Regions from separate parts of the Homo sapiens genome. Here region 1 is linked to region 2. The links come from fine-mapping of genetic effects on gene expression. A gene starts in region 2. The other region holds a variant in brackets. All regions are shown on one strand. Distances are from middle to middle. Region 1 overlaps ABR (ABR activator of RhoGEF and GTPase). Region 2 holds the start of ABR (ABR activator of RhoGEF and GTPase).

What was found.
Region 1: its variant is fine-mapped to the expression of ABR in whole blood (TOPMed, PIP 0.98).

What each region holds. Positions count from the first base shown.
Region 1 is chr17:1,095,594-1,100,593 of GRCh38, reverse strand. The region is part of intron 3 of ABR (ABR activator of RhoGEF and GTPase); the gene reads left to right. Among named protein-coding and RNA genes, the nearest start is that of MIR3183, 76 kb to the right of the region's middle. The variant T/C (reference allele first, on the strand shown) is at 2,124.
Region 2 is chr17:1,177,040-1,182,039 of GRCh38, reverse strand. It overlaps ABR (ABR activator of RhoGEF and GTPase), which reads left to right and starts at 2,059. Exons shown (of 23, transcript NM_021962.5): 1 at 2,059-2,373. The coding sequence starts at 2,313. ABR-AS1 (ABR antisense RNA 1) reads right to left here and starts at 413. Exons shown (of 3, transcript NR_187271.1): 1 at 112-413. RefSeq lists an enhancer at 1,252-2,018.

The DNA of each region.
Region 1 (5,000 bases), 81 kb after region 2:
GTGTTGGGTGATGTCATGCTCTGAAGCTGCTTTTGGAGTTGGAGAGGAAAGGGGACCGTACCCGTCCCTCCCTGTGGACAGAGTCTGCAGCTGGTCTGCTTCTGGCTGGGCATCGGGCAGCCCGGGTCATTGCCAGAAAGGGCCTGTGCCTCTCAGCTCCAGCTCTCAAAAGGCAGGAGAAGCACACCCGGCTTAGAGATGGCAAACACACCTGTCACCCACGACCCTGGCATAGGGCATCGTGAACCCATCATGGTGCTCTGCCTGCCTGGGCGGGGGCCGAGCGCCTTCTCCACGCTGTGCTCTGGGCAGTCATTCCCAATCAATCCAGTTAAGAAGTCTCTGCCGTCTTGTGTCCAAGTCCTTCTACCTCCCTGGGTGAGGGAACCGTTAGTGCCATCCTGAGGCCCCGTGTCAGGAAATATGAGGTGGGAGGCTGTGTTCTTTTTTTTTTTTTTTTTTTTTTTAAGACGGAGCTTTGCTCTTGTCACCCAGGCTGGAGTGCAGTGGTGCGATCTCGGCTCACTGCAACCTCTGCCTCCCGGGTTCAAGTGATTCTCCTGCCTCAGCCTCCCGAGTGGCTGGAATTGCACGTGCACGCCACCAGTCCTGGCTAATTTTTGTATTTAGTAGAGACAGGATTTTATCATGTTGGCCAGGCTGGTTTCCAACTCCTGACCTCAGGTGATCTGCCCGCCTTGGCCTCCCAAAGTGCTGGGATTACAGGCATGAGCCACTGCGCCCGGCCTGTCTGTGTTCTTTTGAGAAGCGGCACAGCTCTGAGGCATCAGGCCAAGCTCAGCCCTCGGTAACATGCCTCAGTTCCCCTCCCAGATGGAGGCATCGTTGTGAGAGTCTGATTGGGAGGGGAATATGAAAATGTTTTCGGAAGATAAAAGTACTACACAGATGTGAGGTGGTTTTGCCTTGGAAGAAAGTGCTCCTTAGATGTGTCTGGATGTTATGCAGAGTGATCGTGGCGTGTCAATCTTTCTTTTGGGTATTTTGCAGCCTGAGACATAAGGTAATTGTCAGAAAAGGGAGACGCAGAAGTGTGGATCTGTGGAAGCTCATTCTTAACAAGAATTCTAAGATGCACATTTAAGTACTTGCCATGACGTGAGGTGTTGTCACACGTCAACCCTGAGATGCTGTCAGTGTCCCAGGGGACTTGACATTTATGTTACCCAGGAATGACTGTGTAAATGTGCAGGTGCAGGCCGGGCGCCGTGGCTCAGTGCCTGTAATCCCAGCACTTTGGGAGCCCCAGGTGGGCAGATCACTTGAGGACAGGAGTTCGAGACCAGCCTGGCCAATGTGGTGAAACCTTGTCTCTGCTAGAAATGCAAAAAAAAGCCAGGCGTGGTGGTGCATACCTGTAATCCCAGTTACTCAGGAGGCTGAGGCATGAGAATTGCTTGAATCTGGGGGCGAAGGTCGTAGTGAGCTGAGAGTGCGCCACTGTACTCCAGACTGGACGACGGAAGTGAAATTCCTCAAAAAAAAAGGCTGGGTGCAGTGGCTGACACCTGTAATCCCAGCACTTTGGGAGGCCGAGGTGGGTGGATCACCTGAGGTCAGGAGTTCGAGACCAGCCTGGCCAACATGGTGAAGCCCCATCTCTACTAAAAATACAAAAAATTAGCTGGGCGTGGTGGCGGGCCCCTGTAATCCCAGCTACTCAGGAGGCTGAGGCAGGAGAATCGCTTGAACCCGGGAGGTGGAGGTTGCAGTGAGCCGAGTTTGCACCATTGCACTCCAGCCGGGGCAACAAGAGTGAAACTCTGAATGTGCAGCTGTTTTGCCACACGCCAGGCTGAGTACGTCCCATCTCTCCAGGAGTTTATCTGTGTGTACGGAGCTGTTTTCCAAGTGAGGGGCAGTGTGGCAGGTAGCTGAGGGTCCTGGTCTGGGGCCAGAGCTAGGGCAAGACTTGGCCCTGCCATTAAGAGCAGGCGTATTGCACTGTTTCTCAAACTGTGCCTCTCAGCCCATCAGTGCTTTGGGTTGTGAAATCAGTACAGTGGGTTGTGAAACCAGTACAGTGGGTTGAACCAGCATTTTTAAACCAATGAAAAAATGTCAGCATGCATCATACACGGGAAAGATAAGTGAGGGAACTT[T/C]CGGTTTGTTGTCTGTCTGTGTGCCTGTATATATATGTAATTGCCGGGCCCATGGTGTCTTACACCTGTTGTGGGTTTGAAAACTGCTGGCTTTGGCCGGGCGCCGTGTCTCAAGCCTGTAATCCCAGCACTTTGGGAGGCTGAGGTGGGCGGATCACAAGGTCAGGAGATCCAGACCATCCTTGGCCAACACGGTGAAACCCCGTCTCTACTAAAAAAGTACAAAAAAAATTAGCCGGGCGTGGTGGCGAGCACCTGTAGTCCCAGCCACTCGGGAGGCTGAGGCAGGAGAATGGCGTCAACCTGGGAGGCGGAGCTTGCAGTGAGCAGAGATTGCGCCACTGCACTCCAGCCTGGGCGACACAGTGAGACTCCATCACAAAAAAAAAAAAAAAGAAAAGAAAACTGCTGGCTTTGGGCAAGCCCTACATAAATTCCTTGAGCCTCCATTTCTGGATCTGAAGATGAGAGGGATGCCATTCTTTCTCTCTCTTTCCATGGGGTTGAGAAGATCGGGAGATGCTTTCGGGACCTCATACAGCGTTGAGTTACTTAAGACACTCAACTGTTAGTGGAAGAAAGGAGGACAGGCAAAGAGACAACCCGTCAGACATTCGTGAAACACGTCTTCCAAACCGTGAATTGCTGTCCAAAAAGGAACATAGTTGTCATTACTAACAGGGTGTGTATTTGAAAGGAGTTCAGACAGAGGATCTAGACTGCCTGGCCGTACTGGCTCCAGGCTTTCAGCAGGTGAATGAGCTATCGTGCCTCAGTTTTTCCATCTGCAAACTGGGTATACAAATAGTATGCTTTTCATGGGGTCGTTGTGAGGATTAAAGGAATTTATACACAGAGTTCTTTTTTTTTTTTTTTTTTTGAGACGGAGTCTTGCTCTGTTGCCCAGGCTGGAGTGCAGTGGCACAATCTCGGCTCATTATAACCTCCGCCTCCTGGGTTCAAGCCATTCTCCTGTGTCAGCTTCCCAAGTAGCTGAGATTACAGGCACCCACCACCACGCCCAGCTAATTTTTGTATTTTTAGTAGAGATGAGATTTCACCATGTTGGCCAGGCTGGTCTTGAACTCCTGACCTCAAGTGATCCGCCCGCCTCGGCCTCCCAAAGTGCTGGGATTACAGATGTGAGCCACTGTGTCCGGCACATAAAGCTCTTAGAACACAGCCTGAGTGTTCGTTGACACTGTTAATTTCTCTATTGCTGGGAGAGGAGACAGGTTAGGGCTTCGTGGTTTCTGCCACAACACACCCGTTCCCTGAAGGAGGGAGTGGCGCCTGTCCCCATCAGACACGGAGCCCTTAGATCCCACCTGCCACCCACGAGCCTCTTCCTCTGGGCCAAGACCAAGAGCCCCTCCCTGCTCTGCCTTTCTAACAGCTCATGCCCCAAAGGCAGAATCTGTGGGGCAGGGGCCCCCTTCCTGATATGCCTGGCGCAGGTTCCCCCCTTCCCCAGCTGTCTCCTCCCGGGGCAGGTTCCCCCCTTCCCCGGCTCTCTCCTCCCCGGGCAGGTTCCCCCCTTCCCCAGCTCTCTCCCGGGGCAGGTTTCCCCCCTTCCCCAGCTGTCTCCTCCTGGGGCAGGTTCCCCCATTCCCCAGCTCTCTCCTGGGGCAGGTTTCCCCCCTTCCCCAGCTCTCTCCTCCCGGGGCAGGTTCCCCCACTTCCCCCAGCTCTCTCCACCCGGGGCAGGTTCCCCCCTTCCCCAGCTCTCTCCTCCCGGGGCAGGTTCCCCCCCTTCCCCAGCTCTCTCCTCCCGGGGCGGGTTCCCCACCTTCCCCCAGCTCTCTCCTCCTGGGCCCCTGCTTGGCTCTTTCTTGAGCAGAGACCAGAGGGAGCAAAGGAAGAACTCGCTGGGAGGCCAGGTCTGTGGTAGGAGGGCTCAGGAAGAGGAGTAGGACCCTCCACAGCCACAGCCTCAGAAGAAAACCTCAGAGTGAAAGAATCACACCCTTCCTCCTCTCCTCCCTGAGCTGGGAACCCCTGCACCCTCCCCACCCCTCAGCTAGGAGGAAGCTAAACCTTCTGCTCTTCGGGGTGGCCTCGCAAAGGTGCCAGCTTGAAGGAGAAGAAATTCGTTCCCTCCATGCTCGCTTTCCCACTCCTGACCCCATTCCCACCGCTCTGCCCCAGCCTGTTTGCTTTCATCTGAACACTTCCTGATATGCAAAGGGCTGGGTGTGTGTACCTAAAACCATGTGCACACACGGGGCAGACGAGCCTCCACACAGAAGCCTCCGTCCTGGCCTCTGGGGTGCTTGTGGGGGTCATCTTCTGGGGCCCTCCTGCTTCCTGGTGGGCTCTGATTACAGGAAAAGCCTGGGAGCCTGGGCCGAAGTAGGGGGTGAAGGAAAAAAGATGAAGCCAACTGCATTGAAATTCTGGATCTCCTTGACACTGGGAACTGAGCTTGGGAACTGTGTCTTGCTACGCTGGGGCCACAGGGTGAGGCCACTCCCCAGAGCCCCTCCCACCGCTGGCCACGACTGGCCCTCCTGGGGTGGACTCCTGGCCACGCTGCATCGCAGGCTCTTTATCTATAAAACAGGTGAATGAGGCCTTCCTCCCTGGGCTCCAGTGACGAGTGACTCGGGTGGCATGGCAGCAAGCATGCCAGGCCTTCTGGGGCAGGAGGTGGAGGAAGTGGGTACATTTCTTTCCCTTATTTCGAAAGGCCGGTCGCTGGGGGACAGAGCTGACAAACGGCTATGTGAAGTCCCACTGGCAAGTGAGAACCGGCCCAGGCCCGTCTTCCTGAGAAGCAGCTGGTATGGGAGCCAGGGTTGAAGTCACTCACGGGTCCTCTCCGAGAACTCGAGTGGTGAAATGGAGAGCCGGGGCCTGCCCTTGTCCCTGCAGCAG
Region 2 (5,000 bases):
GCAACGCGAAGGAAAGCAACTGCCACATTTTAGCTTGGAGGATGCTGAAAATAGCTTGTTCAAGCCTTTGTAGATAAAAATGTAAAATGTACGCAAATGTATGTGACTCACGCAGAAGCATACATCCATAGCTCCCTCACAGTCAGCGCCGGATGTGGCCATCAGGAAAACCCCACAGTGTGGGGAGAGGGCCCGAGCGTTCTTGCTTGTTGTTGTTTTGAGGAGGGGACGGTGCTGCTGCCTCCTGGGCTGGTGGCTCCTGGTGGCGGCAGCTCACGCCCGTTTCCACCTTTCCCCTGGGCTGTCTTCCGAGAGTTCCAGGTGGGAAGAAGAGATGCCCTTGGCCCCTCATGGCTCCTCCGGCCTCGCGGTCCTCCGAGAGCCTGCTCGTTCCCTTCCCATGCCGAAGCTCTATTTCTGGAGCGTCTCATTGGAGATGCACGCCCCCTCCCTGCCAAGCTCCAGGTGCCTGCTTGGCCCTCCCAATCCTGTGTGCTAGTCAGGGACGGTGGGAGGGTGACAGCTGCAGGGAGGGGCGGCAAGAGACAGCGCTGGTGCCTGAGCCAGGAGGATTGGGGCGGAGGGAGCCCTGGGGACGCAGGGACGGGCTAATAATATTGAAAACCACTTCTGCTGCAGCCACCTGTAGAGGCTTCCCCACCCAGAGCATCATCCTGTGCGTCTCCCAGGGGCTCCCCAGCCTGTGATGAGTGGGTGACCCCCATCTCCCCTGGGGCAGCTGCAGAGGCCTCTGCCCAAGCAGCTTATGGGGCTTCCTCTCAGCATCCTGGGGGAGGAGCTGCTTCTCCCCTTAAGAACTAGATGTGTGTGTGTCTGTTTGGAGTGATGAGGACCGACCCCCACACCCCTCCAGCGTTCTGCGGGTGCCGACCACACTGCCCCCGGCAAAGGCCAGGCTGACTTAACCTTCCTGGTAGGCCTCTGTAGGGCTGGGCTCCCAGAAGTTTTCCCCTTAAGCTGCCTGGGGATGGGGTGGGGTGGAGACAGCTCCGGTATCTGAAATGTCACTATCTGGGGTACCGGGCCCCCTGGGTGGGCCCCACTGCTTCCCTTTCCCTGGGTTCAGGAAGGGGCTTCAGCCCCACTGCCCTGGACCCCCCTGGCCTGACTCCCCTCCTGTCCTTCCCTGCTCCAGGGTCGCTTGGCCCAAAGAGGTCTGTGGGGAAGCTGCCATGGCTCCCACAGAATCAGCCCACAGGAGACAGGCATGGGGCCCCCAATCTCTTCACTGCCCTTGGGCGAGGGGGTCTTCCTTAGAGGGAATTTCGTCTCTAAACGGTCATTTCTCAGGCCTCTTGACCCGACTTCCCACCATTTCTAGGTGATGATGCAAACACGATGGGCTTTCCAGGCCGCGGCTCGGGGTCCCCAGGAGGGGTCCTGGAGGGGAACGCGTGGAGCCCTTGGGGCTTCTCCTGGCTCCAGTTTGTCCTCCGCCCAGGAGGGGCACATGTGGGACTGTCCTGGCCCCACAGCCCCCGTGACTTCGGTCCTCCCGGGTCTCCACCCGCCCCCCTCCATGTGTGGCGGGAACGGCCGCGCTCAGAGGTCAGGGGTGTGGAAAGGGACGAGCGGGGGAAGGTTCGGGAGGAGAGAGGCGCGTCCCGCGGCGCGCAGGACGTTCACCCCGTGGGTCCCGCAGCGGGTCTGGCTGGGGAGGGGCCCGGCCGCCGCTCCCGCCCGCGAAGCCGCGCTTGGAGATCCCGGGCGGGAGGTGATGTCACCCCTGTGGGCTCCCGGGCCCCCCACGGCACCTGGTTTGCGGATCGCCAGGATCCTGCTGAGCCCGGCGCGGGGGGGACGAGGGGGACCTGGGTCTGCGCCGCCGCCTGGAGACCCCCCGAGACCCCCGCGGCCCCTCCTCGCCCAGCGCCGGAGCCCCGCTGCCCCCTTAGCCCGGCCGGGGGCGTCCTGCGGAGGGCGGAGCCTCGAGCCGATTGGTCCCTCCCCGCCCCGCCCCCGCACCAAAGCCCCGCCCCCGCACCAAAGCCCCGCCCCACCACGAAGCCCCACCCCCGCCCCGCCCCCCGCGAAGTTGCTCATCGGTTCCGGGATCCGCAGCTGGGCTCGGCGCGGCCGCTGGGGCCGGGAGGGTTCGGGAGGGTTTTGGGGGCTCCCGCCCCGCCCTCGCCCCTGCCCCGGCCGCCCCGCGCTCCTCCCGGGGACCTGGTTCCCGGCCTCCTCGCCCCTCCGCGCTCGCAACTTCGGCCTCCCCCGGCTCCCGCCCGCTCTCCCTCCTTTGTTGCGCGATGAGGGTCGGGTTTCGGATCTGACCGAGCCGCCGCCGCGGGATGGAGCCGCTCAGCCACCGGGGCCTGCCGCGCCTGTCCTGGATCGACACCCTCTACAGCAGTACGTGTGCCGGGCGGGGGCGGGACCCCAGGATCGGGATCGGGACCCCAGGATGGAGATCGGGACCCCAGGATCGGGATCGGGACCCCAAGATCGGGATCGGGACCCAGGCACCGGGCTGGTCCGGGGAGCGCGGGCGGGGGCGAGATCGGGGTCCGGATCGGGGTCGGGTTGGGAATCGGGATCGGGGTCGGGACCCAGGAGCCGGGCTGGTCTGGGGGGCGCGGGCGGGGGGTCCCCAGAGAGGATTCCTGCGGTCCGGGGGCGGGGACCGTGGGCGGACCGAGCCGAGAGCTGCGTCCCCCCTCCCACCTGTTGTGAACCCGGCCTCCGCGAGCCTCAGGGGAGGGAGGCCCTTCTGGGTGCTGCCCCCGCCCCTGGACCGGCAGCTTCTCTGTCCAGGCTGAAGCCGAAAGGCCGTTTTGGGAGCAGTCGTTGGCACCCGAGTTTGCCACCCCAGGGGCACCGGGTCATGTGTGGTTCAGGGCCCAGGGGTTCGGTGCTGGGGTGGGATCGGGTGGGAGGGGAGACGGGGGGTGCAGATATCCGCGGGGGCCGTTTGGATGCGGGAGCTGAAAATCCCGGGCTCAGCAATCTTTCCTGCCAGCCTCATCACCACCCCCACCCTCATCATCACCACCACCCTCAGAAGAAAAAAAAAACAAACCTTCTCGAGTTCTCCACCCCCTCGCTCCCAAATCTCTCTGGATCATGTGATTGCTCTTGCATGGCCCCGGGGGATGCGTAACTGATCACGGGTAATGGTGTGGGGGGGCTTGGGGCGAACCGAGAGCCGCCCCCCGCCCCCACCACCGCACCTTGCTCCTGCTCCGTTGCTAGAAAGGCACCGCCCCTTCTCCCCACCCTTCCCTGAGACACCTTTCCCGAAAGCTCTCAGGGATTAGGAAGAGGGTCCTCCTGGGCTTACATAGTGGATTTCGCCCTTCCTGGCCCACGTGAGTGGGACCCTCCCACTCTCTCAGCACATCTCCCAGGCAGGAGTTGGGGGAGGCACGTGGGGCCACGTGGAGCCTGGTTCAGCCTGATTCTAGGCACTGGATGCCATGGAACAGGAGCGTTTTCTTTCTTTTTTTTTTTTTTTGAGACGGAGTCTCGGCTCTGTCGCCCAGGCTGGAGTGCAGTGGCGCAATCTCCGCTCATTGCAACCTCTGCCTCCCGGGTTCAAGTGATTCTCCCGCCTCAGCCTCCTGAGTAGCTGGGATTACAGGTACCCACCACCACTCTCGGCTAATTTTTTGTATTTTTAGTAGAGATGGGGTTTCACCATGAGGCCAGGCTGGTCTCAAACTCCTGACCTCAGGTGATCCACCTGCCTCAGCCTCCCAAAGTGCTGGGATTACAGGCGTGAGCCAACAAGGGCATTTGTAAGGGTCATCCCAGCTAGAGTTCCTTGATAAGTCATATGGGGGGGGTGGGGGGAGTAGAGAAGGGTGATGCCTTGAGCCCCAAAGCCTTACTCTGGAGGCTGTGTGGTACCCAACATTCAACCTCTGACCTCAGCATCCCCTTGGGTCCAGGTCATTCCCTGTATCTTCTTCTCCACCCGCCTCCTCCTCCATCCATGTTCCTTCCTCTCCTCCCCCCAGGAGCTGTCCTTGTGATGGTTCATTCTGCTTTGGTTTCTCAACATCAAAGGGGCAAAGCCGGATCCCCTGGGCATAGGTCCTGTGCCAGGTGCCGCCGCTCCATCTGCTCCTTCCCCTGCAGAGGCCAGCGTCGTTGGGTGAAGGTCAGGGCCCATGGCTGTGTGGCATGTGCGTGCACGTGCGTCTGCATGAATGGGGGCACACATCTGTTCGGAGCGCAGATGCAGATCAGCTCCTGACCCGGAGGCAGGATTAGTGGCCCTCTCTTAGCTGTGTGCTTGCAAACAGCCGTCATAACAATGCCTCAGATTCACGCGTGCTTATGTTCCTGAGTGTTTCTGGCTCTTTGCAAAACCCAGTTCTTGTTTCCCTATTTCCCGAAGCCTGGAATCGTATGGAACCCTGTCTCTAGCTTTCTCTGCAGCAGAAGACTCCTCTGAGCTGATCATTTCCAAGTCTTCCATACCCCACCCTCTTCCTCCCACGCCTGGAGCAAAAAAGCAAAATTGCCTGAGGCCACCTTGAAAATTCCTGACCAGAGGAATGCCAGAAAAGGGAATTAGGCCAAGGCCTCTTAGGGGGTTCTGTTGGGCAGCCCTGATTCAGGCAGATTGGCACCTGAGCTGTCTACCCTCCTGCTGCTGCCCTGGCCTCTGGGCGGCTCCTGGGGTGGCCTGGATGGTGGGTGGGAGGGGGCACTGATGTGGCCGCAGTGTGAGGAGTCCCTGCCTCCCTCTTCGGAACAGCTTAGTGGAGAGCTGTAGCAGGAGGCTTCCCGGGGAGGTGCTGTGCAGTCATGTTTGGGCTGTTAGCCATCAACTTTCCTCTTGACAAGAGCCTAAATTAAAACAAATACCCGAGCTGTCATTTGCCTGGCAGCAAGGTTTTGTGGCTCCCAGAGGAAGTTCCTCTGCTTCTCAGGAAGCTGTTTGCTTACAAGGCTCACAGTCCTGGGGTGACAAATCTCCACAAATGCCAGATCCATCGGGAACTGTAAAGGGGGTATACCCAGGGCACAGG